Regions from separate parts of the Homo sapiens genome. Here region 2 is linked to region 1. The links come from fine-mapping of genetic effects on gene expression. A gene starts in region 1. The other region holds a variant in brackets. All regions are shown on one strand. Distances are between the middles of the regions.

What was found. PIP is the estimated chance that this variant, and not a neighbour inherited with it, causes the effect. A credible set is the group of variants that fine-mapping cannot tell apart.
Region 2: its variant is the best candidate, but not a certain one, in a credible set for the expression of CFAP126 in sigmoid colon (GTEx, PIP 0.55).

What each region holds. Positions count from the first base shown.
Region 1 is chr1:161,366,097-161,369,024 of GRCh38, forward strand. CFAP126 (cilia and flagella associated protein 126) reads right to left here and starts at 1,780. Exons shown (of 5, transcript NM_001013625.4): 1 at 1,746-1,780; 2 at 343-405; 3 at 102-182. The coding sequence starts at 1,772.
Region 2 is chr1:161,319,089-161,322,016 of GRCh38, forward strand. All of the region lies in intron 1 of SDHC (succinate dehydrogenase complex subunit C), which reads left to right. Among named protein-coding and RNA genes, the nearest start is that of SDHC, 6.2 kb to the left of the region's middle. The variant A/G (reference allele first, on the strand shown) is at 1,808.

The sequences.
Region 1 (2,928 bases):
AACTTTAATTTTCCCGATAATGGCTGTGAGAGACTGCACATCTCCCAGTTCTGTGCCTTAATTATTTGACTTTCTTGATAGGAGTGAAGATAGTATCTCACCTTGGAACGGGGCACAGAAGGCAGTAGATGACCACGATCGTTGGCAATAATTTGAGTGTAGCCTTCATGAGAAGAGATGCTCTGGGGTACAAGTGGGAGAGATAAAGGTTTGTGAGGGGAAAAAGGGAAGTATTTGGGGAGCTTGGTCAGAGAAGGATATGGGAGTTTAGAGAATGCTAAAAGGAGTTAATTGACAGGGAGAGCATGAGGCTATCTTGTAGGTGCACTGAACATGGAATACCTCTTTTGTTGGCTTAGTGGGAGACCAGTTCTGCAGATACTTGGATGAGAAAGCCTTTTCATACTGTGGAGAGAAAGATAAGTAGCCCTATGAGACTTCAAGGCCCCAAACCCAGGAAATGAAGACTAGGCACAATTCTTTAGATTTGAAGACCAAAGGCCTGACCAACCATGTAGGCTTTAAGTCACTATGACAAGGGTGTAATTTGTTTGGTCTAGATGTGTGCTGTCCAGCATGGAGCCGGGAGCCACATGGAGCTGTTGAGCACCTGAAATATGACTAGTTCAAATTGAGGTGCTTTGTAAATATGAAATATGCTGAATTTTTAAGTTTTTTTCTTTTCTTTTTTTTTTTGAGATAGGATCTTGGTCTGCCACCTGGGTTGGAGTCAGTGGCATGATCCTAGCTCACTGCAGCCTTGGACACCTGGGTTCAAGCGATCCTCCTCCCTCAGACTCACAGGTAGCTGGGACTACAGGTGCATGCCACCATGTCCAGCTAATTTTTAAATTTACTTGTAGAGACGAGGTCTCACCATATTGCCCAGGGTGGTCTCAAACCCCTGGCCTCAAGCGATCCTTGTGCCTCAGCCTCCCAAAGTGTTGGGATTACAGACGTGAGCTACAACACCCAGCAGGTTTTGGAGATTTAGTACAAAAAAAGAACGTAAAATGTCTGATTATAATTTTTTAAATACTGATTAAATGTTGAAATAATATTTGGATTTATTGGGTTAAATTCAATATATTTAAATTTTATGTTTTAATTTTTTCATGTAGCTACTAGAAAATTTAAAATTACATTTGTGGGTCGCACTCTTTTTGTTGGGCAGCACTGGTCTAGATCAGGAGTTGGTAAACTATGGCCTATGGGCCATATCCATATTGCTGCCTGTTTGGGGATGGCCTGAGAGTAAGGGTGATTTTTATAGATGAACATTTACAATTGATTCAGTCAAATGGAACACTAACTTTGAATCCCAGTTAAGTGAAATGTTTTCTCAACCCCCAAAATTCCATTATTTTCATTAGTAGTACAAAAAATTGTACTCAGTTATATTTTGAATTTGTCAAAAATGTTATGGAAAAATGTTTTTCTTTAATTATGCAAGTAGCTACAGAATATTTTTGACTTTGCCACTTGGCCTGCAAAGCCTAAAATTTTTACACTCCGCCCTTTTACAGAAAAAAAATTGCCAACTTCTGGTTTACACCCTACAAATTTAACCAAGAGATACCTTTGGATCGCCCCTGGGCTCTCTCTATCCCTGAGGAGGTAAAATATTATCTCACTCCACTCTCAGCTATCTGTTCAAAGATCAGAATCCTATGAGAGGGGACAGTCCAAAGATAGAATCTGAAAAACAAAAGTAAACGTTAAAGAAATGGAGAATGGGAACTTACCTGGTTGGCACTGTAGTTAGTGGCCATGATCTTGTGCTGTTTACACTCGTTGCTTGGCAACTGCAGAAGGCCGACCTCCTGGGACTACCAATGAGCAGAGGCTGCCTTTCTCTTCTGCTTATTATTATTCACTTCCTTGGCTCACACTGCCCCCATTTGTTTTCTCTGGAACTTAGATTCATTTTTATTTTACAGACGGGAAAGACTGAGTAAATGTGAGAAAATTAGCTGAATAGCCACTACTTTTTTTCTGGCATAACCTACCCCTGCTTAAGAACTTCCACGGGCCTTTGATTGGGGTTTTTAACCACTTTAACAAACCATGTAACCCTGAGAGCTATGCTTGTTGGACAACATGGTGTAATGTACCACAGGCTGTAGAGCCAGATACTGGGGTTTGAATCCTTATTCAACATGGGAACATAGGAGCTATATGACATTAAACAACTGTCTTGTCTTCACTAAATTTCTATCAACTCATTTGTATTGTGGGGATAATAGAGCCTGCTTTTACAGGGTAAGTGAGATAAAATGAATAAAGTGTCTAGACAATATCATAGCATAGTAGGTATTCAATCCTGGTGAGATCCTGTTTATAAGGCCCACTACTTTGTCTTATCAGGCAGAATAACAAAGGAACAATATTTAAAAAGCAACTAGCTCAAATCTGTCCCCAGAAGGAAAAACATATCTTGTCCTTGGTCCTTAAAAAATTTCCTCTGTCACTGTCTAGAATCAGCACCTAAGAACACAGGCGTTTAGTGTTGACTGGAATAAAATGGAATCGGGTGCTGGTGCAGGGAGATTGAGCAGGGATGAAGAGAGAAAATCACAGAGTGGAAAGGATCAGGTTTGGAGAGTTCAATGGGGGGCTGCCAGGACATAAGCCTAATATGTGTGGGACAAGGAAACCCCTCTGAAACTCATAAAATGGTATTGTAATACCCATCTATGAGGTGGTTAGGAGAATTAATAAGTAAGTAGAACTGTGCTTTGTGAATTGTAAAGTGAATTTATATATAAGGTGTCAAGATGAAAGGGAAAAACTAAGAAATAAGTTGCCCAAAGATATCATTAGGACCAGGAGACCATTATAAAGTATATCCAGGCCGGGCACGGTGGCTCATGCCTGTAATCCCAGCACTTTGGGTGGCCGAAGCAGACGGATCACAAGGTCAGGAGT
Region 2 (2,928 bases), 47 kb before region 1:
CACATGCCTGTAATCCCAGCTACTCAGAAGGCTGAGGCAGGAGAATCGCTTGAACTCGGGAAGTGGAGGTTGCTGTGAGCTGAGATCGTGCCATTGCACTCCAGCCTGGGCAATAGGAGCGAAACTCTGTCTTAAAATAAATAAATAAATAAATAAATAAATAAAGTACTGTGGTACTATGGATCCAAAATATTTTGATAGTTTGAGCTCAAAGTCTAGCAGGGAGATAAATAGATTAATTATTAAACCACATAAGAAATATTGATAGATATGAACAAGTGTGAGAGCAAGGCAGATATAGCAAGTAAGGCTAAAGAAGTGATCTTGCTATCCAGGAATTGGTTGTTTTTTTTTTTTTGGTTTTGGTTTTTTTTTTGAGACTGAGTCTCGCTCTGTCGCCCAGGGTGGAGTGCAGTGGTGTGATCTTGGCTCACTGCAACCTCTGCCTCCTGGGTTCAAGTGATTCTCCTACCTCAGCCACCCGGGTAGCTGGCATTACAGGGGTGTGCCAGTATGCCTGGCTAATTTTTGTATTTTTACTAGAGGTGGGGTTTCACCATGTCGGCCAGGCTTGTCTCAACCTCCTGACCTCAAGTGACCCACCCACCTTGGCCTCCCATAGTGCTGGGATTACAGGCATGAGCTACCACGCCGGCCCTTAGGAATTGAGTTTTGAAGGATGAGTTTAACAGGCTCTGAGGGAGGCTCTATTCAGAGAACAGCATGAGCAAAGGCATGTGGTCAAAAGATGGTTTGCTGTAGCTGGACATAATGTAATGTTCAGTGTGGCAGAATTACAGTGGATTGAAAGGAATTTGTGGGAGGTTAGGTCCAGAGAGTTGGCCACGTTGTGAAGTGCGTTGTTTGCCCACAGTTTGGATCTTATACTGTAAGCAGCGGGAAATTGTTAAAGACTTTTAGGCAGGAGAATGATGAAACCATGTTATTTTATTTATTTTTCAGTAAATTAGTGTTGGTGTTATTGAATGATATGTAAGAGATTGGTGCGAGGGAGATCAGTTCAGGAGCTCTTGTTACAGTCCTAGTGAGAAACGAAGAGGATATAGACTATAGCAATGGATTGGAATGAATTTTCCTAGCTGTTAATGATAGGATTGGGTGATGCCATCATATGGGGGGGGTGGTGAAAGAAAAGAAATCAAGGATGACTTAGGTTATAGTTTGGTAGTTGGGTGGTAATAATCATTAACCAGAACTTTTGTATACAAATTATTATTCATCATGCCATTCAAAGTTATATATCTATTTTATTGTTGCTGTTACCTAGACATTTATGAAACTTTTTGGTATACCATCAGATCAAGTTTAGAAACTCATTATATTACAGTCATATAATGTATGACTATAATAAGATAAATTATAGTCACATCTTGTTTTGGACTAAAAATGGTATTCAGTTTGATCACATAGACTTGGCTTTGAATAACTTTTTTTTTCCAGAAATCAAATTTATTTTCAGTGGATGAGTATTTTTGTCACCACTGAGGGTTTTAAAAAGAATGTGATGCAAATTCTAAAGACCTCGGGGAGACCAGTGATAATATGTTACATATATATGTGGTGTATTGTAGTTTAGACAATGCTTTCCTGTATGTTTTCTTGTGCAGTCCCCTCAGCAACCAATAAGGTAGGTATTATCAATCCCATTTTATAACTGAAAACGCTGAAGCTCAATGACTCACTCAAGTTATACAACTTATTCTAAGACTTCAGTCTTGATTTTTTTTTTTTTTTTTGAGATGGAGTCCCGCTCTGTCACCAGGCTGGAGTGCAGTGGCCCAATCCC[A/G]GCTCACTGCAACCTCTGCCTCGCGGGTTCAAGCGATTCTCCTGCCTCAGCCTCCCGAGTAGCTGGGATCACAGGCGTGCGCCACTACGCCCAGCTAATTTTTGTACTTTTAATAGAGACGGGGTTTCATCATGTTGGCCAGGATGGTCTTGATCTCCTGACCTTGTGATCTGCCCGCCTCGGCCTCCCAAAGTGCTGGGATTACAGGCGTGAGCCATCGCGCCCGGCCCAGTCTTGATTTTTTACTTCCCAATGTTATTTTTACATTACCATTGCTGCCCCAATCCAGAGAAGAGTTTCAAAAATGATTTCAGCAATGATTACATTTTGGGGAGACATGTTAATGCATTTAGAAGGGGCAACAATAACTAGAAATTGTAAGTTCTGGCTTGTCAATTAAAAATACAGAGTTCCTGTTTTCACATGAAAGGGAAGGATAATTACTTTTGTCATATTTCAAATAAGGTTATGGCATTTGTGCAGCTAGTTTCTGTGAGGGCCTTGTAGAAAGTTTACATTGATATTTGTCTGGGAAACAATAGCGCTAGACAGAGAGGGCACGCCATAGATTCCAACCCACATCTGCAAACTCTTGCTGGGTAGCTGAGTGACTGGGCCTAGCCTGGTGTGAGGAATGCGTGCCCTGCAACTTCAGAGTCACAATTCAATTGATTAAAAGAGATTTGTTCCCACTTCTTTCTGGGAGCCTTGGGTATACAATGTCTGTATTCACCTCTTGCCTTCAAAGCTGGAAAGAGGGAAGAGCTGAAGAAGGAAGTGTTCGTTAGATTTTTTTCCTTTAAATAGTGGGCCCTTCTAGTGTACTAATATGAAGCTTTTGAAAAGTTTGTGCATCTAATATCAATGGTGTGAGGGACATCATGAGCTTTTTTAGAAGATCATTAGATCTGTATGAGATCTTGTGTCCTAGTGCCTTGCAAGTAGTGGATATGCAATAAACTTTTGTAGAATCAATGTGTTTTTAAGTTTTAGTCCCAGAAATTCACTCTATTTACCTTCTTAAATGCTTTTGGAAAGATTTGATACAATGATGTGACTGAAGGATATAATGATGTGACTGAAGGGTATAATGGTCGTGTGTTTTTCATAGTACACAATGA